3 separate regions of the Homo sapiens genome follow, and regions 1 and 2 are each linked to region 3. Evidence: fine-mapped expression QTL. A gene starts in region 3. Each other region holds a variant in brackets. All regions are shown on one strand. Distances are between the middles of the regions.

Evidence for each region.
Region 1: its variant is fine-mapped to the expression of RARA in whole blood (TOPMed, PIP above 0.99).
Region 2: its variant is fine-mapped to the expression of RARA in whole blood (INTERVAL, PIP 0.96).

What each region holds. Positions count from the first base shown.
Region 1 is chr17:40,334,621-40,345,482 of GRCh38, forward strand. All of the region lies in intron 2 of RARA (retinoic acid receptor alpha), which reads left to right. RARA-AS1 (RARA antisense RNA 1) reads right to left here and starts at 8,516. Exons shown (of 3, transcript NR_110861.1): 1 at 8,256-8,516; 2 at 7,376-8,070; 3 at 6,247-7,080. RefSeq lists enhancers at 6,794-7,372, 7,408-7,958, 7,445-7,494, 7,959-8,508, 9,609-10,159 and 2 more and a silencer at 6,875-7,104. The variant G/A (reference allele first, on the strand shown) is at 5,448.
Region 2 is chr17:40,213,214-40,224,075 of GRCh38, forward strand. WIPF2 (WAS/WASL interacting protein family member 2) reads left to right here and starts at 6,091. Exons shown (of 8, transcript NM_133264.5): 1 at 6,091-6,279. RefSeq lists enhancers at 1-38, 5,432-5,481, 5,922-6,031, 5,932-6,710. The variant T/TGGCGGCGGC (reference allele first, on the strand shown) is at 6,155.
Region 3 is chr17:40,304,664-40,313,461 of GRCh38, forward strand. It overlaps RARA (retinoic acid receptor alpha), which reads left to right and starts at 4,517. Exons shown (of 9, transcript NM_000964.4): 1 at 4,517-4,623. RefSeq lists enhancers at 3,944-4,829, 4,209-4,378, 4,389-4,518, 4,830-5,713, 7,303-7,803.

The DNA.
Region 1 (10,862 bases), 31 kb after region 3:
GGTGAGGCAGTTCCCAGGAGAGGTGGCAATCCATGGTCCTCCATTCCTGCAGGAGCAGTGGTATGCCCCAGTCTGCCCATACCCTTTTTGTAGGAATTCTTGCTGATGAGGCTTCCTACTCCCATTCCCCATCCAACAAAGGTGTTGGGTCCCTCCTCCCCCTCATCCCTTTCCCCAGGTGGGGAGGAGGCAGCACATTAGGTGGCCTGGGTGCGCCCTTCAGAGACCTAGTAGCCTATGGGACCAACAGAAACCCTCTCCAGGTCACTGTGGGGAGGGCTGTGTATTTGTTCTGCTACAGCCAGGGTGGGAGCCCTAGAGATGGTCCGGCGATTCTCCCCGCCCCCTAAACTGGCCCCTGGGGCTTGGTCTCTGAAGACTGGTGTTTACTGTGGAGGTCTCAGATTCTGTGTGCACTACGGGTCAGGGCTGTGTGTGTTTTGGGGGTGGGGTCACGGTTGGGTGTGTGTTGGGAAGGGGATTAATGACTTGTGTGTATTGGGTGAGAGGGTTAGAGAGCTGAGTGTGTTTTGGGGGAATTAAATCCAGAGCTAAGGAGGGAGAGTCAGCCTGTCTGTGTGTTGGTGTTGGGGCTGGGAGGGGGAGTGACTTAGGGCACAGAGTGTTTAAAGAGGAGTGGTCTTTCGTTTGGGTTCTTAACCTTTCTTGGCTGGAGGGGAGAACTGATCTGCCTTTTTTTGTTCACCCTGGGAATTCCATGGGCAAAGGGGTCTGACTGGGGGCTGTGGAGTAGGCATTTAGTGCTGAGTTTAAAACTTGGACACTGGGCTGGGCGTGGTGACTCATGCCTGTAATCCCAGCACTTTGGCAGGCCAAGGCGGGCGGATGACCTGAGGTCAGGAGTTTGAGACCAGCCTGGCCAACATGGTGAAACCCCATCTCTACTAAAAATACAAAAATTAGGCAGGCGAGGTGGCACGTGTCTGTAATCCCAGCTACTCGGGAGGCTGAGGCTAGAGAATCGCTTGAACCCAGGAGGCAGAGGTTGCAGTAAACCGAGATCATGCCACTGCACTCCAGCCTGGGGGATAGAGCGAGCCTCTGTCTCCGAAAAAAAAAGATAATAAAATAAAACTTAAGACACTGGCTGCGTGCAGTGGCGCCTGCCTGTAATCCCAGCACTTTTGGAGGCTGAGGTAGGGACTTCAGCCCAGGAATTTGAGACAAGCCTGGACAACATAGTGAGACCCTGCCTCTACCAAAGAGAAGAAATTAGCCAGGTGTGGTAGCGTGTGCCTATAGTCTCAGCTACTCGGGAGGCTGAGGTGGGAGGATTGCATGAGCCTGAGAGGTTGAGGCTGCAGTGAGCTATGATCACGCCACTGCACTCCAGCCTGGTGGGTGACAGAGCAAGACCCTGTCTCAAAAACAACAACAACTTGGACATTTATGTCACATACAACTTGCTGATAACCTCTCTGAGCATGTTTCTTTTTTGTTGTTGTTTGTTTTGAGACGGAGTCCTGCTCTGTCGCCCAGGCTGGAGTACAGTGGTGCAATCTCTCAGCTCACTGAAACCCTCTGCCTCCAGGTTCAAGCGATTCTCTTGCCACAGCCTCCTGAGTAGCTGGGATTACAGGCGCCCGCCACTATGCTGGACTAATTTTTTTGTATTTTTAGTAGAGATGGGGTTCCTCCTTATTAGGCTGGTCTTGAACTCCTGACCTCAGGTGATCCGCCCACCTCGGCATCCCAAAGTGCTGGGATTACAGGTGTGAGCCACTGCACCTGGCCAAAGACATTTATTCATTTATTTATTTATTTGTTTTAGACAGAGTCTAGCTCTGTTAGCCAGGCTGGAGTGCAGTGGCACGATCTTGGCTCACCGCAACCTCTGCCTCCCAGGTTCAAGCCATTCTCCTGTAGCCTCCCAAGTAGCTGGGACTACAGATGCATGCCACCATGCCCGGCTAATTTTTTGTATTTTTAGTGGAGATGGAGTTTCACCATGTTAGCCAGGATGGTCTCGATCTCCTGACCTCCCAATCCGCCTGCCTCGGCCTCCCAAAGTGCTGGGATTACAGGCATGAGCCACCGCGCCCGGCTTGTTGTTATTTTTTTGTTTTGTTTTTGAGACGGAGTCTCATTCTGTCACCCGGGCTGGAGTGCAGTGGCTCGATCTCGGTTCACTGCAACCTTTGCCTCCCGGGCTCAAGCGATTCTCCTGCCTCAGCCTCCCAAGTAGCTGGGACTACAGGCGTGTGCCGCTACGCCCAGCTAATTTTTGTATTTTTAGTAGAGGTGGGGTTTCACCATGTTGGTTGGCCAGGATGGTCTCCATCTCTTGACCTTGTGATCCGCCCGCCTCGGCCTCCTAAAGTGCTGGGATTACAGGCATCAGCCACTGTGCCTGGCCGTGACCCAGACCCTTTGTAGGTGGGAGCTGGAGAGAATGGGATGCTAACATCTATAGAGCACCTACTGTGTGTCAGGGGCTTTGTCTGTGTTTTACAAATTTTAATCCCTGCAATCCTGGAAGAGGGACATTATCCCCACTTACACAGAGGACACAGTGCTGGGGGAGGTTAAAGTACTGCAGAATCATGACTGTAGGATTGTAAAGCTGGGCTGTTTTCCACCATCTACATAGGCAGCTTTGAGAGTGGATTGTGGGGCACACTCTTGGGTGTGGGAAGTGTGGGGGGTGGGGCTTAGTGCTGACTGAAACCCCCTTCCCCACTGTAGAGGCCCTTTCTCTGCCTTAGAACCTACCTTTCCCCGGTAGGGGGTGTAGGGAAGGCCCAAGCCATACCCCCTCCTCTCTGTTTTGGATCCTGAAGGCTGGAGAGAAAGAAAGATAAGGGGCCTGGGCCAGATCTCCATCCTGTCCTGGAAGCTGTGGATACAATCTGTTCACACCATCCCCACCCCCAAATCTGCCCGCTGTAGCCCACGGGAGTTTGCAGAACTCAGCGGGCACCCTCCCCCCGATCTCCAGACACTGAAGGAACAGAATGTAAAAGCCACAGTTCTTATTCTTAATTTGTTTCAATTTGTGGATGGAGGCAAAGAAGTTGCAAGCCATCAACAGAGGAGCCGGGGATGGGAGCCCCAAAAGGGTGGCTGCATGTTTGCTTCGTGTGCCTAGAGACTGGGGAATGCCCGAGGGTCTGGGTGAGCCCCAGCAGAAGGCAGAAAGGAGGAGGTTGTGTCCTTCCCTTCTTCCTATCCTCTGCCACTTCCTCGCTGTTGCAGTCTGTGCATACTGCCTCCTTCCCTGCTTCCCACTCTTTCCCTGGACAATAGGAGGGACAGCCCAGGCGGAGGGACAGCCCAGGCAGAGGGACAGCCCAGGTGGAGGGAGTGCTGCCTAGCAATGCCTTTCTTGGAGTCCGAAATGTAGAGTCAGACAAAAGAACATGACATGGAGTTTTTAATGAAAATGGGGTCCCTCACCTTTTATCTCCCAGCAAGGATAATGCACAGGTTCCCTCTGGACAAGATCCCAGCATAGACGCGGGGAGGGAACTCAGGGAAGGAAGCCCGTCTTCCTTTTAGGTGGGTCAGGGCCGAGGTATTGTGTCTACCCCATGCCAAGGGATGTGTTGCTTATGGGGCTGTACCAGTGCAGGCCTGCCTGCCCTTTGAGGGAGTAGTGTCTGTGGGAAGAGGAAGTGGTTTCCATCTCTAAGTCATTTTGGGGCAGTGCCTTCTTCCTCCTCCTCCTCTGTGGAGTTGGGGCACAGCGAGGGATTGGGCCTCCCAGGGTTGACTGGAGGCCACTCAACCTTTGGCTGTCAGAAATAGAGGTGCTCCCCTCCCCATTTTGACTTCTGGGTTGCTGGAAACCTCAACCAGCCCACAGACCAAGGGCCTTCCATGGGCAGGAGTCTTAAAGGACAGTTCTTCCTGTGTGGCCTTGGGCAGGTCACCCAAGCTCTCTCCAAATCTGTTTCCTCCTCCTTAAAGCAAGACTTCTGGCTGGGCACGGTGGCTCACACCTATAATCCCAGCTACTCGGGAGGCTGAGGCAGGAGAATCACTTGAACCCGGAGGTGGAGGTTGTAGTGAGCCGAGATCGCGCCATTGCACTCCAGCCCGGGTAACAGAGCAAGACTTGGACTCAAAAAAAAAAAAAAAAAAAAAGCGTGGGCACGGTGGCTCATGCCTGTAATCCCAGCACTTTGGGAGGCCGAGGTGGGAGGATTGCTTGAGCTCAGGAGTTCAAGACCAGCCTTGGCAAGATAGCGAAATAGCGAAACCCCATCTCTACAGAATATACCAAAATTAGCTGGGCATGCTGGTGCACACCTGTAATCCCAGCTACTTGGGAGGCTGAGGCATGAGAATTGCTTGAATCCGGGAGGTGGAGGCTGCAGTGGGCTGAGATCACACCACTGCACTCTAGCCTGGGTGACAGAACGAGACTCTGTCTCAAATAAATAAATAAAAATAAAAAAATAGAGCAAAACTTCTAATCTCTCCTTGGCTGGGCGAGTTGCCGTTAGGCCACGGTCGCCTGCTTCCTGCTGAGGCCCTTGGTGAGTTTCACGTACCCAGCAAGGCTGTGATAGTGAGGGGCAGGGTAGAGCTGGGTACTGTCTTGGGGGATGGTGCCACTCTATACTGGGAGCCAGTGTCCACCTGGCACTGGGCCTCATGATTTCCTGTTTGTTGTCCCCTCCAGATGGGGTTGGGGACAGGAGGGGGCCCTGCCTGGCACAAGTGGGGGCCAGTTTGGCCTGCACCTGCTGAGGGCTTACTAAACGCAAAGCCCTGAGAAGGAGCTGAGGGAGGGATAAGGCTGAGCAGGATGGGGCCCCAGGCCTGCAGACAGCTGCCGCTGGAGGCCCCCCAGCCCCAGCTGCGGGCCAGAGCCTTCCTTGTTTCCCACTTCTCCCACTGCCCCAGGACACTGTGTTCTGCTCTGACCTGCCCCATGACCTTGCTGTTGCCCAGAACGGGCCTCTTGCCCTAGCTTCTCCTCTCCAGCTCCGGAAATCCTATCTATCCTTCAAGGAACATCTTGAATGCCGCCTCTTCCCAGAAATCTTCACAGATGTTCCCCCTTGCTTGCCACACTCTGCCTCCCTACTTAGAATGCCTGTGGGTCCTTATTTATTTTTTAACAACACTCATCTCGCTACCCAGAAGTTGCTTCTCCCCTGTTCCTGCCATGAGCTGTAACCATTTGGGACATCTTTTCCTGACCACAAGGTCTTTGATGGCAGGGACAGAGTCTCAGGTCCCTTAGCGCCTTGCAGCTGTGAGCGCAGAGCCTTGCTCCATCATTTGAAAGATCCCGAAGGCATGGAAGCACTCTGTCCTCTTCGCCATTAGTCTCATCCACTGTCAAGATTTGCATACCTGCCCCCAGACCCCAGCATTCCATCTGTAGCCCTGACTGCACTTCAGGGCCCCACATCCACCTGTCCAGCAGCCCAGTGGACTTCTCTGCTTTGCAGTCTCAGGAACTTCACTGATGC[G/A]TAAGTCACACACAAGTCTCTTTGCTACCTCTTTTCCCATACCCCTTACCCCCACCCCCCCACGTTATTTGTACCTTTAAAATGTTTATTGAATCCACCTTCCTCTGTCCATCAGCACTTCCAGTTTCCTAGGCCAAGCCACCCTTGTCTGATGCCTGGACTGCTGCAGTAGCTTTTACCTGGTCTCTCTTGCCCTCCTATAATCCATTCTTCACACAACTACTGGAAAGATCTTTTTACACTGTAAATCTGATCTTTCCTTTGCTTGGAACCTTTCTATGGCTTTTCCTTGCATTTAGGATAAAATCCAAAAGCCTTACTGAGGCCTATAAGCCCCCCTGGTCTGGCCTGAGCCCACCTCTCTAGCCTGGTCTTGTGTACCTTTTCCTTTTGAATTTTGTGCCCCATGATTCTAGCCTTCTGCCAGTTCCTTCAATGAACTCATCAACTGCTGTAACCCCAGGGCCTTTGCACAGACTCGCCCTTTAACTGGAACTACACTCCTTTCTACTCTTTGCCTGATTAACTTACAAACTTTCTCTTATGGTAGGTCTGTTTTATTTGAGTTCTTCCCTAATTTAGTTAAACCTAAATTAGGTACCTATGTTAATTCTTCAGAGCATAATAGCATTTATCTCAGTTTGCAATTGTGTGTGCATACAGTGATTATTTGCTTAATGGCTGTTGCTCCCTAAGGTCTACAAGGGCAGGTTCCCCAGGGTGTCCACATAGAAGGTGCTCAGAAAAATACCTTGAATTGGCCTAGCTTGGTAAGAACATGGGCTTTGGCAGCAGGAAGTTCAAATACCTGCTCTACTCTTTATTATTAGTAATGTGATCTTGGACAACCCACATAGCCTTGCTGAGACCTGTTTTATTTGTAAAACATCTCTTGGAGTTGCTGTGAGGATAAAATGACAACATATATAAAGAGCCAGGCTTCTTCTAGAAGAATGTCCTTGGGTAGCATGTACATTTCCATCCTTCCTTTTAGAGAGTGGGGGTAATAGGATACCCCCTCCTCCAGGGGTATCCCCTCTTTCTAGGGACCTACCCAAGCTAGGCCTTTCTTCCAGTGAAACGTGCATCCCGAGGGCTTCTAGGATGAAGTAGTCCACTGGAAGGCACCAGCTCTTCCTTTTATCTCTCCAGAGCTGGACAGTGCACCAGGGGCCGGTACTGGTTCCCCAGCTAGGAGACACCTTGGGCGGGGCTTTGCTCGCCGGAAGCACGCAGAGCGTGGGGAGGAGGGCCCCCTCTGCCTGTGTTTGTGCCAACAGCACCCGCGCTGCCGCGTCGGGTTCCGGCGGCCGGAGTCACACATGATGTCACAGACAATGACACAAGCCGGTGTCTCATTCCGACACAGCGTCCGAGCTGCACAATGTCACACCCGGGTGCCAAACACTTGGCCCCGCGCGACCCGGCCCTACGCCTCCTGCCGCCGCTCTCCGCGTCTCCGGGGGAGGTGGCCCGGTTCGGCCGGGCAGGGGGCTGGCGGGCGAGCCCCGCGGGCGGGCTGGCGAGCGGGTGATGTCACGGGCAGCGGTGGGTGGGTCACTCGGAGGTGAGGCGCCGCCAGGCGAGTTCAGCGAGAGTTCAGCCGCATTGCATTAGGCAAATGAGGCCCGGCCTGGGTGGGGGTGTGTGTTAAGGGGAGGACACCGGGACCACCCCCCTCTTCCCCGCCCCACCACCTCCTCCACCACGGCTTCGCTCGGCCAGGGACTGACCAAACCTTGGGGGAGCCTGGGAGCCGGAACTGGTACAAGGGAGGACGCCCGCCCCTCTTCCGTCCTTGTCCCCTCGCAGCCCCCTCCTCTCCCTGTACTCGGCGTCCCTCTGTACTCTGTGTACTCCTCATCTGGAGCCTTTCCCCCTTCCTGCTTCTCTCCTCTCCTCCCCCTTCCCAGGCTGCCCCCACTTGCCTGTCCACATGCCGCCTCTCCCTCTCGGTTCCCTGCGTTTCTCCCGCTGCAGCCGGACGCGCCGGGAATGGGTTAAGCCAGGGGCGGTGCCTGGACGGGGCGGGGCGGTGGAAAGGGGGTGGTGCCCGGAGGGGAGGGGGCGCGCAGAGCTGGGGTGGGGGGGCCGTGGCGCGTACCACCAGAGACCGAGCGAGTCGCCAGCTGCCCCTGGCCTGGCGGGGGCGGAACCGCGCGGGATCCCCACCCCCACCCGGAATCCTCGCCACGGAGAATCCCTGGAGAAGCCCCGGATCCCCGGCTGGGAGGAGGAAGTGCTCGTTGACCCCCAGCCCCGCGCTGATCCCGCCCCCGGCCTGCGGACTTGGGGAGCCGCTGTACTCTGCCTCGGACGCCACGAGACTCTAGACGGGAGTCCCCTCGAGGTGAAGCCGCTGAGTTCCCGGGCCCCGCCAGGCTTCCCTGGGAGAGCCGACGGACCCCCCCTCCCAGCACACACAACTTCCCTGCTTTTCACCGGGACTGGCGGAGCGGCCGGCGGACTTAGACGCGGGGACTTCAGGGCAGGGGGCGCCCCCTGCCCGGGTCACCAGTCGGGGCGAGGGGACGTCTCCTCTCCCCCAGCTGCTCTGCTCGGATGGCGCCGCCGGCTGAGTGACGGGGGCGGCGCGCAGGACTTCCCAGCTCGGACCTCTTGCCTTCGAGGGGAAAGATGTACGAGAGTGTAGAAGTGGGGGGTCCCACCCCTAATCCCTTCCTAGTGGTGGATTTTTATAACCAGAACCGGGCCTGTTTGCTCCCAGAGAAGGGGCTCCCCGCCCCGGGTCCGTACTCCACCCCGCTCCGGACTCCGCTTTGGAATGGCTCAAACCACTGTACGTACCGGCCTCTCAGTCTGCTGTTGTAGGGGGTGGGAGTGGGCGGTAGGGCTTCCACTACTACTCGGGGGTGAGAGTCCCGGGGTGTAGTGGAGGTCCTGTCTCTACCTTTCACTTAACCCGTGTTGCCCTTGCTGGACAATTGAACCCTCCCGGCCGCACCCTCCCCCCAGTAACCCTAAGTGCAATTTGTGTTAGATTAGGGCTGAGGAACTTTGAGAGTTCCTTCTTTCAAGCAACATTCCTTCATCTCTTGTTTCACTTCTTCCAGGAGAAATGAAGCCCAAGCCCCTTGCCCCCAGTTTATATCTTCTTGCCTGGAATCCAACAGCTTCACAGCAGGCTGGAGGGTGGGGTAAAGGTCCTGTCTGTGTGGGTTTGTCTGCTCCCGGGGGAAGGCCCCCCCGCCAGATCCCACTTGCCAAAGCCCGAGGGAGAGCCCCTTCCTGTGCGACAGCTGCTGCCCCCAGCCCTTGCTCTTGCGTCATTAGAGTGGGTGTCAGGGGAGCACTCAGTGTCTTTGGTATTGACAGTGGGGTGTGGCAGAAAGGGGCAACTTCATCAGACACCCGTCTGCCATCCTAACCTTCCATCTTGGCAAGGGGCACTGGGTCCTTATGGGGTTGTTGTCCTGGCCCCAGACACTTGGCTGTCATCTTTGAGGCTTTCATCCCCAGGAGTGGAGGGGAGAAGCTGCTCTGGTGAGAAGAATCCCTCTCCCCCTAATCCTAATCCGGTTTGTTCTCTGGGGAATGAGTTTGTTTTTGTGGGTCTGGGGCTGCTCTGGAAATGAGGACTGCATCCCTTCCCAGCTCCGCCACCGAGTCCTTTTGTTACCCTGACTTCACTTGGGGATAGGGCCAGGTCCTGGGCTGTGCCTTCCTAAGAGGGGCACTGATGAGAATCCTAGCATCCTGGCAGCCTGGTCACTTTCTCTCCTTGTTGCCCCCTGCCTGGGTGCAGGCTCCTCTGGGAGGAAGGGCTCTGTGCACACTCAGGAGCTCGGAGCACCAGGGTGTACACCTGGGCATTTTCCTGCGCAGCTGTGAGGCAGTGTACACTGGGTGGGCGGGAGCAGGCGCAAGGGGGTTATTGTTAGATGGCTCAGGTTTCTTCCCCTCCTGGGCTTTGGGCTCTTTGCTGGAGGGGAAGCTCTTCCGTGGAGGATCTCCCACCTTCCTGGACCTGCTGCCTCCCTCCTGCCTGCCAGGGAGGAGGGGTGGAGTGGGTCTCGGGGGGGCCCTGGCAGATTGGAGAAGGTTGAAGGGCAAAGGACTTACCCCACCCCTCTTGCTGGGAGAAGAGAGACCTGAGATGGACAGACAGCCCACCTCTGCCCTCCCAGAGCCACTTCTATCCCAGCTTTTCCTATTGTCCTGCCCCCGACCATTTCCTCTAGGGCCGAATCTGCTGTGTGGCTGTAGACACAAGAGGGAAGGTATCACCCTTGACTTTGGAAGAAGAGAGAGTGAGAGGATGACTCTAGGACCCTTTTTCTCATTCTCCCAGTGCTGGAGCAAGACCCCCCTCCCCTAGGGGGATAGTTGGAGCAGGGCTGCCAGAGTCACCCCTTCCACTGCCTTGGCCACCTTCTCCAGAGGGCTGGAGAGAAGCTGGGATCTGAGACCTTGGTCTCCAGCCCCTGTCTCTTCTTAGCCCATGGGGACAGCTCAGCTCTTCCTGGCCCAGAACTGGAGAGGGAGGAGGATCACAGAGAGTAGGACAGGCAGTGTATTGGTGAGCCCTTCCCCTAAACCACTGGACATGGGGAAGTGGAGACCTGTCCCCACATCCATTCTGGGGTGGGGTAGTAGACCTAGAGGCCTGGGTTTCCAGTTCCCGTAGTCTGAGCGTGGGTGTGCATATATAAGTGAGTGAGGTGTCAGTGGACTCGGGTCCTGAGGCTGTGAGGTTGGGAGTGATGGGGGTCTGGGGGCTTGCCTTGAGGCACAGGAAGGACCCGGAGTCTGAGGGTGGCAACTAGACTCAGTCTAGAATATGTGGGGCCAATGCCACCACCTTGGAAGGGTCCCCTTGGGTGTGTGGAAGTCCGCTGGTGACTGGAGCTGCCTCCAGCCCCCTCTTGGGGAATTCTCCACTCTCCCCTTTACTGCCACTGAAGGTGGGAAGAGCAGGTTGGCTCTGGGAGGAGGTGGCCTGGGTTCTGCAGGGCCCTAGGGACATTGCCTCCCTCCCCAGAGCCCTCATTTCGGTGCATTAGAGGACAAGGGGGGTGCACAGGATGTGGCTCCCCATCTGTCTCCCACCAATCTCCGCCACTCACACCTCCGCCCGCTCCCAGACGTCCAAGAATGTGAAGCACGTGGATGCCCGTAGTTGGGGGAGGGGGAGACGCTTATCAGGCGGCCGCTGGGCTAGGGGCCTTCTTCCGCTGCCGCGGTACACCCAGAGCTACCCCCGCCTCTCCCCGGGAGGAGGAAGGACGGTACAGAGGGCCCTACGCCCCCTCCCCAACCATCCCCAGGGGCTGCGAGGGGAGCTGCGGAGGAGCGGGCGCCAGCTGGATTGGGAGGGGAGCCGCTGGCCGGGGGCCCGGCTGATTTCCTGCTGATCTCCTCCAGGAAACCGGCCCCTTGTGCGAGCCTGCGAAC
Region 2 (10,862 bases), 90 kb before region 3:
CCCTTTGGGAGGCTGAGGCAGGCAGATCACGAGGTCAGGAGTTCGAGACCAGCCTGGCTAACAGTGAAACCCTGTCTCTAAGAAAAATGCAAAAATTAGCCAGGTGTGGTGGCATGCGCCTGTAGTCCCAGCTACTCGGGAGGCTGAGGCAGGAGAATCGCTTGAACCTGGGAGGTGAAGGTTGAAGTGAGCCGAGGTCGCACCATTGCACTCAAGCCTGGGTGACAGAATGAGACTCCATCTAAAAAAAAAACACACAAAGGCCGGGCGCGGTGGCTCATGCCTGTAATCCCAGCACTTTGGGAGGCCGAGGTGGGTGGATCATGAGGTCAGGAGATCGAGACCATCCTGGCTAACACAGTGAAACCCTGTCTCTACTAAAAATACAAAAAATTAGCCGGGCGTGGTGGTGGGTGCCTGTTGTCCCAGCTACTCAGGAGGCTGAGGCAGGAGAATGGCGTGAACCCGGGAGGTGGAGCTTGCAGTGAGCCGAGATCGTGCCACTGCACTCCAGCCTGGGCGACAGAGTGAGACTCCGTCTCAAAAAAACAAAAAACAAAAAACAAAAAAAAACCACACACACAGGCTCAGCGGGGTGCGGTGGCTCACGCCTGTAATCCCAGCACTTTGGGAGTCCGAGGAGGGTGGATCACAAGGTCAGGAGTTCCAGACCAGCCTGGCCAACATAGTGAAACCCCTTCTCTACTAAAAAATACAAAAATTAGCCAGGTGTGGTGGAGCACGCCTGTAATTCCAGGTACTCAGGAGGCTGATGCAGGAGAATTGCTTGAACCCAGGAGGTGGAGTTTGCAGTGAGCTGAAATCATGCCACTGCTCTCCAGCCTGGGCGACAGGGCAAGATGTGTCTCGAAAAAAAAAAAAGGGGTTGGGCGCAGTAGCACATTCCTCTAATTCCAGCACTTTGGGAGGCCAAGGCTGGCGGATCACCTGAGGTCAGGAGTTCAAGACCAGCCTGACCAACATGGATAAACCCCGTCTCTACTAAAAATACAAAATTAGCTGGGCATGGTGGCACATGCCTGTAATCCCAGCTACTAGGGAGGCTGAGGCAGCAGAATAGTTTGAACCCAGGAGGTGGAGGTTGCGGTGAGCCGAGATCTCGCCATTGCACTCTAGCCTGGGCAACAAGAGTGAAACTCTGTCTCAAAAAAAAAAAAAAAAAATGCCGGGCGCAGTGGCTCACGCCTGTAATCCCAGCACTTTGGGAGGCCGAGGCGGGCGGATCACGAGGTCAGGAGATTGAGACCATCCTGGCTAACATGGTGAAACCCCGTCTCTACCAAAAATACAAAAAAAAAAAATTAGCCAGGTGTGGTGGTGGGCTCCTGTAGTCCCAGCTACTCAGGAGGCTGAGGCAGGAGAATGGTGTGAGCCTGGGAGGTGGAACTTGCAGTGAGCCGAGATCTCGCCACTGCACTCCAGCCTGGGCGAGAGAGCGAGACTCCATCTCAAAACAAACAAACAAACAAACAAAAAAACAAAGGGCCAGGTGTGGTGGCTTACACCTGTAATCCCAGCACTTTGGGAGGCCAAGGCAGGTGGATCACTTGAGGTCAGGAATTCAAGACCAGCCTGGCAAATATGATGAAACCTCATTTCTACTAAAAATACAAAAACTAGCCGGGCGTGCTGGCATGTGCCTGCAATCCCAGCTACTCGGGAGGCTGAAGCAGAAGAATTGCTTGAACCCGGGAGGCAGAGGTTGCAGTGAGCCGAGATCGCGCCATTGCACTTCAGCCTGGGCAACACAGCAAGACTGTCTGAAACAAACAAACAAAAAACACAGACTCTGGAGATACTTTTACTTTCGCTACTTATAGATATGTGACTTTGAGCAAGATGATTAACCTTGCTGTGTCTGTTTCTTCATCTGTAAAATGGGCTTAAAAATATCTGCCTCAGAAAGTTATTGAGAGGATTAAATGAGCTATGTGAGGTTTTGACAGTGCCTGGCACATGGTAAGTGTTACTAAATGTCAAACTTATGATGACTTCTGTAACCTAATTTCTTGCCTCCCCCAGAAGTTCTAACTCTATATCAATATATTTTCTGAACCAGGTGAGGTGGCTCACACCTGTAATCCCAGCACTTTGGGAGGCCGAAGTAGGAGGATCACTTGAGGCCAGGAGTTCCACACCACCTGGGCAACAAAGGGAGATGCTGTGTCTGTGAAAAGAAAAAAATTGGCCGGGCACCGTGGCTCACGCCTGTAATTCTAGCACTTTGGGAGGCCTAGGCAGGTGGATCACGAGGTCAGGAGATCGAGACCATCCTGGCTAACACGGTGAAACCTCATCTCTACTGAAAATACAAAAAATTAGCTGGGCGTGGTGGCGGGCGCTTGTAGTCCCAGCTACTTGGGAGGCTGAGGCAGGAGAATGGCATGAACCCTGGAGGCGGAGCTTGCAGTGAGCCGAGATTGCACCACTGCACTCCAGCCTGGGGGACAGAGCGAGATTCCTTCTCAAAAAAAAAAGAAAGAAAGAAAAAGAAAAAAAATGTAAAAATTAGCTGCATGTGGTCACCAGTGCCTGCAGTCCCAAATAGGAGGCTGAGGCAGAAGGACCACTTGAGCCCAGAAGTTCAAGACTACAGGCCAGGTGTGGTGGCTCACGCCCATAATCCCAGCACTTTGGGAGACCAAGGTGGATGGATTATCTGAGATCAGGAGTTTGAGACCAGCCTGGCCAACTTGGTGAAACCCCATCTCTACTAAAAACACAAAAATTAGGGCCAGGCGCAGTGGCTCACAACTCTAATCCCAGCACTTTGGAAGGCCAAGGCAGGTGGATCACCTGAGGTCTGGAGTTTGAGACCAACCTTGCCTACATGGTGAAACCCCATCTCTACTAAAAATACAAAAAATTAGCCGGGCGTGTTGGCAGGCGCCTGTAATCCCAGCTACTCGGGAGGCTGAGGCAGGAGAATCGCTTGAACCCGGGAGGCGAGCTGAGATTGCGCCATTGCACTCCAGCCTGGGCAACAAGAGAGAAACTCTGTCTCAAAAAAAAAAAAATACAAAAATTAGACAGGCATGGTGGCTGGTGCCTGTAGTCCCAGCTACTCGGGAGGCTGAGGCAGGAGAATCGCTTGAAGCCAGGAGATGGAGGTTGCATTGAGCTGAGATCACACCACTGCACTCCAGCCTGAGCAATAGAGTGAGACTCATTTTCAAAAAATAGAAAAAATAAAAAGACTGCAGGCCAGGCGCAGTGGCTCATACCTGTAATCCCAGCACTTCAGGAGGCCGAGGCGGGCGGATCATGAGGTCAGGAGATCGAGCCCATCCTGGGTAACATGGTGAAACCTCGTCTTTACTAAAACTACAAAAAAAAAAAAAAAATTAGCCAGGCATGGTGGCAGGTGCCTGTAGTCCCAGCTACTCGGGAGGCTGAGGCAGGAGAATGGTGTGAACCCAGGAGGCGGAGCTTGCAGTGAGCCGAGATTGCGCCACTGCACTCTAGCCTGTGCGTCAGAGCGAGACTCTGTCTCCAAAAAAAAAAAAAAAAAAGACTGCAGTGAGCCATTACTGTGCCACTGCACTGCAGCATGTCTTTAAAAGACCCTGTCTCTTAAAAAAAAAAAAAAGTGCGTTCAGTTATTGGAATGTGCCATGATTCTTCTTGCTTTGCCCAAACTCTCCCTACAATGCTTTTCCTTCACTTCTTCCCTGGTCAATTCCTACCTGTCCCTCAAGTCTCACTTAGAATATGGGTATGGCCTCACTTAGTTACTTTCTTTTTTCTTCCTTTAGACAGGGTTTCACTCTATTGCTCGGGCTGGAGTGCAGTGGCCAATCATGGCTCAGCCCAGCCTTGATCTCCTGGGCTTAAGTGATCCTCCCATATCAGCCTCCCAAGTAGCTGGAACCACAGGCTCACACCACCGTGTCCAGCTAATTTTTTTTTTTTTTTTTGAGACAGAGTCTCACTCTCGTTGCCCAGGCTAGAGTGCAATGGAGTGATCTCAGCTCACCGCTACCTCCGCCTCCTGGGTTCAAGCGATTCTCCTGCCTCAGCATCCCAAGTAGCTGGGATTACAGGCATGTGCCAACACACCTGGCTAATTTTGTATTTGTAGTAGAGACGGGGTTTCACCATGTTGGTCAGGTTGGTCTCGAACTCCCCACCTCAGGTGATCTGCCCGCCTTGGCCTCCCAAAGTGCTGGGATTACGGGCGTGAGCCACCGTGCCCGGTTATATCCGGGTAATTTTTGTAGTAACAAGATTTCACCATGTTTCCCAGGCTGGTCTTGAACTTCTGGGCTCAAGCGATCCCCCCTGTCAGCCTCCCAAAGTGCTGGGATTACAGGCATGAGCCACTGCACTTGGGCCATTTACCTTTTTCATGAAGCCTATATCACTATTTCCCCAAGTCTGGGTGAGATGTCCCTATATTCATCCCAGCGGCTGCCCTTATCACAGAGTGTGTGATAGAGCATGGGGCTTTACATTAGCTACAGTGGGCAGTGAATGCCCTCTGAGGACGAAGCATTTGCAGTAAGGCTTGAAAAATGAGGAAGAGGCGGAGGATAGCCAGTACACAGTCCCTGAGGTGGGAACTGCTGAATGGGGTACATTGCAGTGATAGAAATCAGGTCCTCATAATGTAGAGTGAGTGAGGAGGGGACAGGCAGGGGATGAGGTTGAAGAGTTGGGAGGCTCTGGTAAGGTGTTTGGACCCACCATCTCCCTGGCTCCATCGCCCCACGTATGGCCATGCAGGATGTAGACAGCTGAAAATCTTTACCTCGTGTCCTTGATCCCTATGCCTGCTGTGTTCCCTGCCTTCTCTGATTAATAATAAAATTCCATTCATCCTTCAAGGCCCAGCTCCAAACCATTTAGGAAACCTCCTTCCATTCTTTAGCAGGAATTAATTGCTCCCTTGTCTGACGTCCCACAGCACTAATCACACGCTGACTTGTATCTCAGCTAGCTGTTTATGCCAGTCTGCCCACCAACGTAGTGAGTTCCCTGAGGGCAGAGGCTCTGTCTTAGTCACCTCTGTAGCCATCTCCTGGTGTTTAGCAGGTACTCAATGTGACATTTACTTGACTAGTGGGTGGTGCCTAGTACTACTCATGGCAGAATAGAAGGAAAACAAAAATAATAACAACTTATGCTCTATCACGTTTTCCCATTCATTAACTGATTTCAGCTTTGCAACAACTCTATGAGACAGACGGGACAGGCACTATTAGACCCATTTTACAGATAGGGTAGCTAAGGCCCAATGGCACACAGCTTGTAAGTAATGGGGACTAAGTCCCAATCTTGCCCCCTTACTTCGGATTCTGTGCTGGGAATGGAATTAAACCAAGAGTATTTTGAAGCTATAATGGAAAGCGCTTTTCTGGGTGGACTAGGGAGAGATACTTAGTCAGCTGTCAGGGTTTAACAGCAGCTCCATCAAAGAGGGCACAGGATTTCTCTCTCTGGCCCAAGCAGCTGGAGGGGTCCACAGCACCATCCTATAGCCCTGGAAGCTGGAGGAAACCCCAGCCCGAGAAAGAAGAGACGGTGTTCGAGTCAGGTGGGTAAGATGACGTAAATGATGACTTGTGAGCAGTGGCCTGCCTCTGTTGCCATGACAACCGGAGCTTGACTACTTGGCCTTTGCAAGGTTGGCCGAGGCGGGTTCTTCGTTAACTCGAGATTAAGGAAGGATATTTAGGGGGGAGGGTGTGTGTGTGTGCGGCGGATTAAAGACGAAAGGAGTATATTCAACAATGACTGTTTAGCTCAGTGGTTCTCCACCTTGGCAACACGTTAGAATCACCTGCAACAATTTCCTGATGCCTAGGCTGCACCCCAGAATTAAATTATAATTTCCAGGGGTGGGAACCAGGCATCATAGTATTTAAATCTTGCCAGGTGATTCCAATTGCAGCTAAAGTTGCAAACCCAGCTTTTAGCTGGTAAGCGGAATTCCTGTGACCTTCCTAAGATGGCGTCCACTCAACCGCTTCCGCCTTTACGTGGGCCGGCAGGGGGCGGGCTTCCCAGGGGCGCATGCGTCTCGCATCTCTCCGCTCCCTGCTCTCTCCTCCTTTTTCCCCCGCCTCCATTTTGTTCGCGGACGCTGGGGACGGTGGGAGCAGATCCATTTCCGGGTTGGCAAAAGGGGCGG[T/TGGCGGCGGC]GGCGGCGGCGGCGGCGGCGGCGGCGGCGGCGACGGCGAGAAAGAGCTTGCCGGGGGGCGAGCAGGACAGGACGAAGCCGGAGTGTAGGCGGCAGAGGATTCGCTCCCAGAGCAGCTGCGGCCAGGTCGGAAAGAGGCCGGGGCGGCTGGGTCAGTCGCTGAAATGACCTGCGGACCTGAGTGGGAGGGAAAGTCGCGGGGAGGGGGGCTCGGGGCGGGGCTTGAGAAGAGAGGGGGGCATTAGAGGAGGGGCCGGAGGGGGAGAGGGGTCTTGCGGGTGGGGCCTGAGGGGCGGGGGGCCGGGGGACTGTATCGGAAGAACCTGGAGGAGAGAGGGCGTGGGGAATCTGGGGAGGAGTGGTCGAATATTGGTATGGGGCGAGCGGGGACTGGAAAAATGGGGAGGAACGTTTTTGAGAGACAGGCAATAAGGGCTCCTGAAGGGTTGGGTGAGTTAAGGCGGCAACTCTGTGAGGAACGAGGTAATCGTGCGCAAAAAGGGAGACGGGAACGGAGGACCTGTTGGGAACGGCTAATTAGCAGGATGCTGTGGGTGAGGAGTCCAGTGTGACATTTTGGGGATTGAGTTAGGTGAAAGCTAGTGTTTGGGAAGATGGCTCGGGAAACTGCTTACACTAGAGGGAATCTTGAGAGCGTTCTTTGAAAAGGAATCAGAATTTAGTTAAAGGTTGGATTGAGAATGTTAAGATGCGCATTGGAACGTCTGGAGTTGAGGGTTCATGTTGAAGTGGTGTGAAGTGAGGGAAGATGGAATTTTTTTTTTTTTGTTTTAAAGGTGGGGTCTGGCTATGTTGCTCAGACTAGTCTTGAACTCCTGGGCTCAAGCGATCTTCCCACCTTGGACTCCCAGAGTGCTGGGATTACAGGTGTGAGCCACTGCACCCGGCCAAGATGGAAATGTTAAAGTGTTCAGCATGGCAGTGTGTATGGTCGAGTTTTTTATCAGGAAGGAAAGTTCTTAAAAATAGCATTGAGGCAAGGAACTGATATGTGATGGAATTCTTTTTTCTTTTTTTTTCTTTTAAGAGACGTGGTCTCACTCTGTCGCCCGGGCTGGAGTGCAGTGGCATGATCATGGCTCCTTAAAGCCTCGACCTCCCGGGCTGAAGTGGTCCTTCCACCTAAGCCCCGCCAATAGCTGGGACCACAGGTGTGACCACTACTCCCGCCTAACGTGTGTGTGTGTATATATATATATATATATATATATATATATATATATATATATATGTATATATATATATTTTTTTGTTGTTGTTGTTGGAGACAGAGTCTTGCCCTGTTGTCCAGGCTAGTCTGGAATTCCTGGGCTCAAGTGATCCTCCTGTCTCGGCCTCCGCAAGTGCTGGGATTACAGGGATGAGCCACTGTGCCTGGCCCAGAATTCGTTTTTTTTTTTTTTTTGAGATGGAGTCTCGCTCAGTGGCCTAGGCTGGAGTGTAGCGGTGCGATCTCGGCTCACTGCAAGCTCCGCCTCCCGGGTTCACGCCCATTCTTCTGCCTCAGCCTCCCGAGTAGCTGGGACTATAGGTGCCCACCACCACACCTGGCTAATTTTTTTTTGAATTTTTAGTAGAGACGGGGTTTCACTGTGTTAGCCAGGATGGATGGTCTGGATCTCCTGACCTCGTGATCCGCCCGCCTCTGCCTCCCAGAGTTCTGGGATTAGAGGCGTGAGCCCCTGCGCCTGTCCAGAATTCATATTTTTTAAAGGACTTGAATAATCTGTTATTGCTTTGGGCTCTCCCAGGGTCCCCGTCCTTTTTCATGCTGTTATTTTTGCCTTACGGTTTTGGTTTTTGACTGTCTTACTGAATGTTTTTGGCTATTCTGTTCTCCTTTTACAAATCAGAAGAGAACCACAGGGAATAAGGACAGTTTTAGCCTACCTATGGATTTAGTAAATAACTTCAAGGCAAATTATTAAGCTCTCATTTTTTTCCCCTTTGAAATATAGGTTTTCTCTGTCCCTGCCTCTAAAAGTTTGTCTTAACACATGGGATCTTTAAAGTGGTTGCATAGAAGTGATCTCTGAAAATGAGATTGAGATATTGATATTTAAAAGACATACAATGGTGCACCTGCCTGTAATCCCAGCTACTTGGGAGGCTGAGGCAGGAGGATTGCTTGAGTCTAAGAGTTCGAGACCATTCTGGGCAACGTAGCAATACCCCATCTCTCTCTCTGTCTCTTTTTTTGTTTGTTTGTTTAAGACGGAGTCTCGCTCTTTCACCCAGGCTGGAGTGCAGTGGCGTGATCTCGGCTCACTGCAACCTCTGCCTGCCGGATTCAAGCGCTTCTCCTGCCTCAGTCCCCCAAGTAACTGGTACTATAGGCATGCACCACCACGCCCAGCTAATTTTTTGTATTTTAGTAGAGATGGGGTTTCACCATGTTGGTCAGGCTGGTCTCGAACTCCTGACTTCAGGTGATCCACCCACCTCGGCCTCCCAAAGTGTTGAGATTACAGGCATGAGCTACCACACCTGGCCGCATGTTTAGTTTTTTAACTCTTATTAATGTCAACTTTTAAAAGTAAAAATTTCATATTGTGTTACATTGGTTGCCATCAAGATGAAGATAGGGAAGTTAAGAGTTGGGGAAGGTGGAGATGAATGAAGTCAATTGATGAAGACTAGTAGAATGTAGTGTTGGTTTTTTTATTTGTTTATTTATTTATTTTGAGACAGAGTCTTGCTGTATTGCCCAGGCTGGAGTGCAATGGCACAATCTTGGCTCACTGCAACCTCTGTCTCCTGGGTTCAAGCAATTCTCCTGGCTCAGCCTCCCAAGTAGCTGGGATTACAGGCGCGTGCTGCCACGCCCAGCTAATTTTTGTATTTTTAGTAGAGACAGGGTTTCACCGTATTGGCCAGGCTGGTCTCGAACTCCTGACCTCGTGATCTGCCCACCTTGGCCTCCCAAAGTGCTGGGATTACAGGTGTGAGCCACCGCGCCTGGCCGACCTGTCTCTTAAAGGAAAACAAGGCTGGGCGCGCTGGCTCATGCCTATAATCCCAACGCTTTGGGAGGCCAAGGTGGTGGATCACCTGAGATTGCAGTGAGCTGAGATCGCGCCATTGCACTCCAGCCTGGGCAACAAGAGCGAAACTCCACCTCAACAACAACAACAACAACAACAAAAGGAAACATGTTTTTCTGTTTCTTCCTCTTAGCCTTGCTCATGTGTGTGTGTGTTTGTGTGTGTGTGTGTGTGTCTGCGTGCCAGCCAGGGAAGAACTGGTTTTGATTTGATGCATATTCAGTTTTTTTTTTTTTTTTTTTTTTTTTTTTTTTTTGAGACAGAGTTTCGCTCCTGCTGCCCAGGCTGGAGTGGAATGGCGCAGTCTTGGCTCACTGCAACCTCCGCCTGCCGGATTCAAGCGCTTCTCCTGCCTCAGTCCCCCAAGTAACTGGTACTATAGGCATGCACCACCACGCCCAGCTAATTTTTTGTATTTTAGTAGAGATGGGGTTTCACCATGTTGGTCAGGCTGGTCTCGAACTCCTGACTTCAGGTGATCCACCCACCTCGGCCTCCCAAAGTGTTGAGATTACAGGCATGAGCTACCACACCTGGCCGCATGTTTAGTTTTTTAACTCTTATTAATGTCAACTTTTAAAAGTAAAAATTTCATATTGTGTTACATTGGTTGCCATCAAGATGAAGATAGGGAAGTTAAGAGTTGGGGAAGGTGGAGATGAATGAAGTCAATTGATGAAGACTAGTAGAATGTAGTGTTTGTTTTTTTATTTGTTTATTTATTTATTTTGAGACAGAGTCTTGCTGTATTGCCCAGGCTGGAGTGCAATGGCACAATCTTGGCTCACTGCAACCTCTGTCTCCTGGGTTCAAGCAATTCTCCTGGCTCAGCCTCCCAAGTAGCTGGGATTACAGGCATGTGCCACCTGGCTAATTTTTGTATTTTTAGTAGAGACAGGGTTTTGCCATGTTGGCCAGGCTGGTCATTTACTAATTCCACCTCACACTTGATACTAGAGTAGTGTTTACCCTAGCTGGTACTGATAAGTTATGTGATAGCACCAAGGTGAAATGCAGGAGAGGTGTGAACATTGGAGTTTTCAGGTTTTACTGATGGCTTTTACGAAGGGAAGAGATTCTAGACTCACTAGGTGTTTTTAGGAAAAAAAAAAGGCAAGAGGCAAGAGACAGAAGTCTTGTTCTGTTGAAGAGAAAATTTTTTTTTGGGTTTTTTTTTTTTTTTTTTGAGACGGAGTCTCGCTCAGTTGCCCAGGCTGGAGTGCAATGGCATGATCTCTGCTCACTGCAACCTCCACCTCCCAGGTTCAAGCGATTCTCCTGCCTCAGCCTCCTGAGTAGCTGGGTGCCATCACGCCTGGCTAATTTTTGTATTTTTGTAGAGACGAGGTTTCACTGTGTTGGTCAGGCTGGTCTCGAACTTCTGACCTTGTGATCTGCCAGTCTCGGCCTCCCAAAGTGCTGGGATTACAGGCGTGAGCCACCGCGCCCGGCCCGAGAAAATTATTAAATGTTCTTTCTTTACTTGTGTTCTCTGATTGGGAGAGTAACCTGGTATATGTTAGTCTGTTTTCCTGCTCTGAAATAACTGTGAAATTCATGGGCTCTTGGTTCAGGCAGCTTCAGCAAACATAGTCTTCTTACAACCCCAGGAAGAGTTGCAGGCTACAAAATATATGTACTTAT
Region 3 (8,798 bases):
CCACAGATGTTTCTGGCTCAATGGAGACTTGCCTGTGGCTAGCTAACTCTGCAAGAATGTGTGAGGTCCAGGCTGGGGGTGGTGGCTCACGCCTGTAATCCAGCACTTTGGGAGGCCGAGGCGGGCGGATCACCTGAGGTCAGGAGTTTGAGACCAGTCTGGCCAACATGGCGAAACCCTGTCTCTACTAAAATAAATTAGCCAGGCATTGTGGTGTGTTCCTGTAATTCCAGCTACTGGGAGGCTGAGGCAGGAGAATCGCTTCAACCTGGGAGGCAGAGGTTGCAGTGAGCCGAGATCGTGCCATTGCACTCCAGCTTGGGCAGCAGAATGAGACTGTCTCAAAAAGGAAAAAAAAAAATGCTGGGTGTGATGGCTCATGCCTGTAATCCCAGCACTTTGTGGGGCCAAGGCGGGCTGATCACTTAAGGGTCAGGAGTGCAAGACCAGTCTGGCCAACATGGCGAAACCCTGTCTCTACTAAAAGTACAAAAATTCACTGGGTGCCATGGTACACACCTATAATCACAGCTACTTGGGAGGCTGAGACAGGAGAATTGCTTGAGCCTGGGAGGTGGAGGTTGCAGTGAGATGAGATCATGCCACTGTACTCCAGCCTGGGTGACAGAGTGAGACTCTGTCTCAAAAAAAAAAAAAAAATGTGTGAGGTCTAAGCTACCCAGAGATCAAAAAGTTGGCAGAGCCTTATTCTCTCTGCGCCCCCTCTTTTGCATTGCTCCCTACCTTTACTAAGTGTCCCTTTGAATATACATCAAGCCAGGTGTGGTGGCTCATGCCTGTAATGCCAACACTTTGGGAGGAGGCAGCAGCGGGAGGATTACTTGAAGTCAGGAGCTTGAGACCAGCTTGGGCAATATAGTGAGACCCCCTTACCCTTCTCTACCAAAAAAATCTTAAAAATCAGCTGGGCATGGTGGCATGCACCTGTAGTCCTAGCTACTTGGGAAGCTGAGATGGGAGGATGCTTTGAGCCCAGGAGTTCAACTCGGCATGGGCTATGATCACACCACTGCATTACATCCTGGGTGACAGAGCGAGACCCTGTCTCTATAAAAGACAGAAAGCAGATACACCAATAAGAATGAGAAGTTGGGAATAAGATGTGATTTAGGTTTTATATATATATTATATACATATTATATATATTTTATATATATAATGTATATTATATATAATATACATATTATATATTATATACATATTATTTATATATATATATATATATATTTTTTTTTTAGATGGTGTCTTGCTCTGTCACCCAGGCTGGAGCAGTGGCGCGATCTCTGTTCACTGCAAGCTCCGCCTCCCGGGTTCACACCATTCTCCTGCCTCATCCTGAGTAGCTGGGATTACAGGCACCCGCCACCATGCCCGGCTAATTTTTTTGTATTTTTAGTAAAGATGGGGTTTCACTGTGTTAGCCAGGATGATCTCGATCTCTTGACCTCGTGATCCGCCCGCCTCGGCCTCCCAAAGTGCTGGGATTAGAGGCTTGAGCCACCATGCCTGGCCGGTTATATATTTTTTAAATATCTTGAGACGTGTTACCTTGACTGCTGAGGGAGGACAAAAGAGATCCAAGATTGAAATTTTATTTACATTTGTATCTGTGCCTAGCAATTAGTATAGTGCCTAATACCTGGTAGGTACTCAATAGTTGTTTAACAGATAAGTGAACCAAATAAGATACTGCCTTTCCCTCAGTGGTGAGAACAGTTCTAAGCTGAAGGTAAACGTTGGTGGTACTTTTGCACAGAGGTGGAGCAGGCCCCTGCATAAGAAGGGTGCTCTGTCTTACAAAATGTGTCTTGGCACAGTTTTGGAGCATTTATTAGCCTCACAGATGCATTCCAATCACTCCCTCTGATGTAGTGGCATTTTGCTTGAGGCAACTTCCATGTTGCTGGTGGGACGCTTTGGCTATGAGGGGAAGAGTCTTATCTACAGGCTGTGAAGAGGGCTGCCTGTCTGGATGTCACTCAGTGTGGCTAGATTGGCCAGAAGCTGGGTCTGTAGGCAAGGGTTTAGGGAGGAGCCCACCTTTGATGTCCCTCTTTTTAACTTGGGGCAAGTTGTGATCTCAGGTTCTTCCTGAAAAGATAAGGTACTTTCTAAGATACCTTCTCTTAAGCTACAAACAGTGCAGGTCTTCCTCTTAGAAGAGGTGTGTTCCGTAAGGGGAGAAGGTGTGCCCTCTGGCCTCCCCTTGATTTTCAACCCCAGCCCCAAGGCACTGGTAGTGGAAGTTAATTGGGTGCAAGGGGCTTGGGTAAAGGCTGAAGACTGGTGAAAGGAGAGAGCCAGCTTCGTTTTTTAAAAAGCTCTAATTGAGTTCTGAATCAGCCTCACTCCCTTTGATCCCTCCTCTGTTTCCCACACTGCCTGAAAGAGCTAGATCAGCACTTTATAACAAGGGTGCGCCTGCTCCCCGCACCGCCCCCCGCTCCTGACGCTCTCTGCTGCCGCCATCCACTGCTTGTCTCCTTCAGTTAAGATAATGAAGATGCTGAGAGATAAAATGTGTATTTAATAAGGGTGGGGGTAGGGAGGCGGAAAGGGGCAACCAGGGCCTTCCCTAGTTTGGGGCCTCGCCAAGACTTAAGCTGAAAGCAAAGCTAGAGTAAGACTTGGCCCCAGGGTGTGGGGGTTTCTGGGCCTCAATCCAGCTGACTTCACTGCCTGCTGTTTGCCCTAAATTCCCCCACCTCCACCCTCTCACCCCCACACTGCTTTCTTCTTGCTCCCAATGGGAAAAAGGACTCTTGCTTCAACTTTCTTTTCAGCTGGTAACTTGGCCTTTGGTGCGGTGCCCCCCACCCCAGTGTCAGCTGCAAGGTCGGGCTAGGGCAGCCCCCTCTAGCCTAGGCCTGTAGAAGCTGTGGGTTCACAGTGGGGGGTGAAAAAGCTGGAGTTAATGAAGACCAGCTGCTAGTCTGGGTTCTGCCTACAGCTAGCTGGAGGCCAGCCTTTGGTGGTGGTTGATGGGGGGGTGGGGTGACCTCCATCCATGGGCACAAGGATATCCTGTGGCAGCTAGGCTTGTGCTTCTCTCTGAGCTTAGTTTTATCCTTAGTTTATAAGAGAGTATCTGTTTCCTTCCCCTACTCCTCTCCTCCCCAAATAACACTCAGCTCTTATTGAACTTTATAACTGTAGTGGTGGCCCAGCTGAGATCTGAGGATCTCCAAACCCTTTTGTAAACACTCATTAACTGCCTGGGAAGAACGAAGAGCCCTGTTTAACAGCTGGGAGAGAACTGAGGCACATTAGGGTGAAAGGTTTGACCTAAACTCACCCCATGGACTCCACCCTGGGGCCTTCCATCCTTAGTCCAGCTCCTTTACTCAGTTCTTCCTGCAAGACAGAGGTGGAGGCATTGCTGGTGTCTTCTCCCCTTCTAGGGAGAGGCCATGCCCTCTCCCCTCAAGTCTGTCGCTGACTTCCTCTGGCCCTTCCCCTCATGACGTTTTCCCTGCTCTGCTGCTAGAGATATGTGCAACTCTCCTTGCAAAATGTTCTCAATCCACAACTTCAGAATTCTTATCCAGCTTTCTCTTGCCCATCTAGCCCACCAAACCTGAATTCTCCCTTTTGAGCTACTGAGAAGACTGGCTATACTAAACTGAATCAGTGACCTTGAAGTTGATCTGTTGTATTGAGGTCCCTCTGCCCCTATATTTATCCTAAATGGTATCTAGGAAAATATTCTCTCTTTAACTTGTTTATTCTGGTCATAAAGATTCGGGACATTACTGAGGGCTGGGTAGGGGCACTAGTTGACCTCTAGGTTCTACGTCCTGTTCTTCCACTGACAATTACCATTTCCAGTAATAGGTGTAACCCAAAGTTCTTTTTTGTTTTTTTCTCCTTCCCTAACCCCACCTGTTTATACTCTTGCCTATATATGTGTATTTGCAGACCCCACACATTCCCAGATACACATACATTGGTCCTACATGTTTCCCCTGTTTCCAGCTGCCATCTAAGTGAGCCTGCACTTTTTACATGCTGAAAATCTTTTTTCACCCTCTATGGCCTCCTAGGTCCTTGGGAATAATTGGGAGGGATGAAGGGACTCCTGCAGTCCATGAGGAAGAGGACAGAAGTGAGCGCCCAACCAAAATGAATGCTCCCTTTCCAAAATCTCTAGCTGAATGCCTTAGCAGGAGTGGCAGGGAAAGAGATCTTAACCCCACCTCCAGCACCAAAACCTAAATCCATCTGCTCAGGGCAGGCAGGAAGAAATGTCTATTTTCTCCTGTTTCAGGTCATCCTATCCTCGAGTTATCCATATGCTGTGTATTTGAGACAGGGAACTGTTCCTGTCCCCAGCCGATGACCAGACGCCCATCTTTCTTCCAGTGGGTTACTTCTCCCCCATCAGTCCTTCGCTCTGCGCCCGCTGACCCAGTCGGGGCTGGCTGGTGGAAGAGGGCGGGGAGAGCCTTCTAGTTGGCGAGTGGGCTTTAGGACCCAACGGGAACCCGTGCCTCTTGCAGCAGCCTAACCCAGAAGCAGGGGGGAATCCTGAATCGAGCTGAGAGGGCTTCCCCGGTTCTCCTGGGAACCCCATCGGCCCCCTGCCAGCACACACCTGAGCAGGTAGGACCATGCACACCCCTTCCCAATTCTTTGGCCGCCTTTGACCCCGGCCTCTGCTTCTGATCTAGCCATTTCCTTCTCGCCAGTTCTGGCTTTCCCCATCCCTCCTCTCCCGTCGCTCACTGTAGTCCTGGGAGGTGGGAGCCTGGGAACAGTGGGGTGTCTGAAAGCTCAGAGCCCTCTGCACCCTCCAGCACCCTTCCTGCATTTCTCCTGAGGCAGTTCCCGTTCTCTAGATAAGAGTGGGGAGTAGGGGGAAGGTCTGCCCAGGCCCCACGCCCTTGCACCCTCCTTTGCGGTATTGCCTAATACCCCTTCCCCCACCTCACCTAGACTGGAGAATTGGCAAGTGCTGAGGTAACAGAGAGAGGAGAGAGCCAGAGAGGGACCTGAGCTTTCCCAAGGGATTTCTTTCTTGCTTCCTCACCCAAAGAGCTCAGGACTTTGCCCCTACTCCCTACACACCTTGTAGGGGAACTAATGTCCCCTTCCAGGTTCATCTCACACTTGGGTGGCTAAAGGCTTTGCTAGAGGGTAGTGGAGGTTGTGAGCATTTTGGTGAGCTTTTCCTCTAGGAAAGTTCTTTCAGCTTAGAGCCCCCATCCATGTCAACATTTCAACACCTGCTGCAGAAGCCCCCCGACCCCACCTGTGTGTGTGTGTGTGTAGGGACAATGTGGTTGTAAGATCTAGAAGCTTTGGATAGAGGTGGCTGCATGCATTGAAGGGGAGGGATACCAGAGTGTGGCCCAGGCCAGAACAGGCTCAGTCCAGATGGCTAGGGAAGGGGGTGTGGACCAGATTGAGGAGGTCACCCAGCCTTGCCAGCTCCCTGAGCTTCTTGGCTTTCAGAATCTCAGGCTCCTGGTGTTTCTCTAGAGCTACAAGGTCCCCAAGCTTCTGCCCCGCTACAGGCTCTCTGGGAGAGGGCTAGATGGCACCTACTGTTTACAGTGGCTTATTTTTCTCTCCTGTGGTGGGCAGACAGGCCCTGCTCTCTGAAGATCTAGGGCGTGTCATTCTGGTTTGGTGGGTTTACAGGAAGGGTGTACACCTTGTCTGACTTACCATGTGTGAGTGTGTGTCTTGCTTCTGGGGGTAGTAGACTGGGGAGGGGGGTGATAGAAGAGACTGGTCACACTGAGGGAACTCCTCTAGCAATCAATGTATGATAGGAATGGGTGGCATGTCCCCATCTGGTAGCTCTGTCTAGGTGTGGGGTGTGCTCTGCATTCTTCCATGGCTCCCCGGGTCCCCTAAAGGTTGGTTTTAGAGGACAGGGTGGATAATGAATTGGCTTCAGACTTCGTTCTGGTCTTGATCCAACAAGGAAAGTAGAGATTCTGACTGTGAGCAGTGAACTAGGAATCAGAGGCCTGAACTGGAGACTTAGACTGGTTACTTAACTATATGTGTTTATATAGGTCTTCCCCTTTGCTAAGCCTTAGTTTCTCCATTTGTAAAAATGGCTATCAGTAGCAAGCAGGGACATTGCCACTAAAACCACAGAGACAATGTATCGTAAAGCTCACTGCAAACGGTAGTAATGGCTGGGGGAATCTAGGATGGAATCCTCTTCCTAAATCTAGGTCAATCTCTCCGCCTTTAGTTTTCTTCCCCCATCCTTTGCCCATCTGGGGGATGGAGGAACTAGGCAGGGCTATTGCCCCGGTTACTGCAGAATTCCCCTAATGCAGGTTGTAGCTGTTACCAGAGCACCTGTGGTCACAGAGTACAGATCTCTCCACCAGGCATTTCTTCCTCTGGGGCCCCATACTTGCTCCCCTGAGCCATGTCTCCACCTTCCTTCTGCCATCCCTGCTTGGCGTCCTTGTCTCTCTCTCCCCTGCCCAGTGGCCTCCTTGTCTGGCTCACTGGGCAGGAGCCCTAATCGGATTCGACAGCTGAGATATGTGTGGCGGCTAAGAGCAGGCAGGAGGGAAGCCAGTGGGAGGATGGTATGAGGACTGCCCCTGGCACTGCCCCGGCCTCCCAAGCACCACCTTGGGCCTGCTGATTTCTTACTTGGCTTGGCCCCAAGGAAGGGGTGCCAGAGGAAGCTCAGGAATGAACAGGCTGGGGTCTGGAGACTAGGAGAGGAGGAAACACACCAAGGTCCTCAGGACCTGGTTGATATTCGATGACCTTAATGTCAGTGTCACTGACTCTGACAAGGAGGAAAGGACAGCGATGAGCCAGGCTGACCCCCGCCACCCCATTCCCATAGCCCCACTTTCTTCTCTCTTCTTGTTCAGAAATGTTTCACTTTGCCTCATCTAGCCCCTTTGGCCAGTAGGTCACATCTGGGAGCTTCTGGGGGTGCCACATGTCTGCCTCAATCTGGGCTGTTTCCTCCCCTCCAAGATATTTCACTGTCTCTGGGCTGGGCGCCAGGACTCCTGGGTTTCCCTGCCTGTGGTGCAGGGCTCCCCTGCAGGGCTCCAGAGAGTCGCTTAGCTGGTTTCCTTCCTCCTTTGTGGGGAGGGCCTTCCCCTAGGGCTGGGAGGTGTCAGGAATCCCAGGTGGGACAGGGGTGGGGGCACAGTAGCCTCTGGCACTGTAGCACCCCAGCTTCTCCCTCCTAGCCTCTGACTCAGCTTGGGGGCAGCACATGCCCAGCCTGGCAGGCATGGCCTATTCTTGCCTCCAGGCTTCTCTCTTTACAGAAGCCTACATCTCCTGCTCTCATTTTTTAGTTTTTTTCCCCATGATATCTGCAGGTGGCTAGTGAAATCCCTGGTTTTGGGGAGCAAGGGACTAACATAATTGAGGCTGGGGCACTATTTTGTCTTCCCTCCAGTTGGGCCAGGATGAAGGAGACTGTCACAAACTTCCCCAAGCCAATTCCTTCTGCCCTCAAAAGACCAGTCAGTGGAGCCAGGCCCTGCCCTTTGGGTGCCCACAATGTGGTTGGCACTGATTTGTCAGAAATTGGGAAGGTTTCCCTCTAGACCGCTTGCCTCCTTTCTCCTCCTCCCGCAGGGTAGGGGCAGCTCTGTGATTGCAGGCACTTATGGGCAGGCCTCCCCCTAGGAAAGGGGTGTGGGATGCCCCCAGGATGGCCAAGTTGGCGCTAGCCCCAGGCTGGAGTGCTGGACATGATTCTGACCTGGGAGTTAGTGGGGGTAAGGCAGGGCATGGGCCTCCCTGCCCCCCTCATTTCCTGCTCTTTGGGCAGCTGTGGGCGAGAAAGGCTGCAGGGACTATTTTTAGTTGGTCAGTCCCCTGGCAGGAGGGACGTGCAGAAAAGCACGGGGCAGGCAGAGGGGCTGGCCAAGGTGAGGGTAAGCAGGCAGGCAGAGGAGTGAGGAAGGGCCAGAGGGGCAGAAGACAGCAAGGAGGCATGGGGAGCAGGGGCAGGACCTTACCCAGAGGGGCATGACCCAGGTAGATGGGCCGGGCTGGACTGGGTGGAAGAGTCCTGGCACCCTACAGGGTTTTCTTTATCCAGCTGGACTCAGAGCTGGAAGGGGTTTTAGAGGCTACCTAGGCAATCCCTTCCCCTTGCAGAGAAGGAAACTGAGGCCTAGAGAGAACACTCAATCAGTCATTGGCTGTGTTGAGACCTGAACCCAGGCCCTCCCTTTGCACCATTTTTCTGTTGTCATGGTTCCTCACCACAGCTCAGTGTGCTTCCCTTCCCTACTGCAGCAAGGAGGACCACGAGCCAGGCACACCTGGTCCATTTTCCCATCTGCTTTTTTGTGCAGGGTCTCTGAAAATCCCAGCTTGGTTTGTTTATAAGTCTCCATGTGGAAAGAGTCTGTGTCCAGGCTAGAAGGAGGTCAGAGTTGGGTTTGTTTGGGTGGCCTGTGGCCACTGGTGTGAATGGAGCTGCTGGACAGGCTCCAGCAGGCTCACAGGCTGGTGAGCTGTGGGGCTAGGAGACACCTTACAGAAGGGACGTCCAGACTCCCCAGAGCCCTTTGTGAGCCCTCCTCCTGCCCTGCCCAGGACCTGTGGGTCATGGTGGTTGTTTGCCCATCTCCCCAACAAAAGAAGGGAGCAGGGCTGAGGAGTGGGGAGATTACTACTGGCTTCTGATCGCTAGTCAGAAGGAGGCCCCCTCTGAGGCCTGGAGGCAGGGAAAGTTGGGGCAAGTTGGGGTGTGTATGGGGAGAAAACTCAATGGAGAATTGTGGTCCCTCAGAATTCAGTCTGCTTTCTGTCTTCTG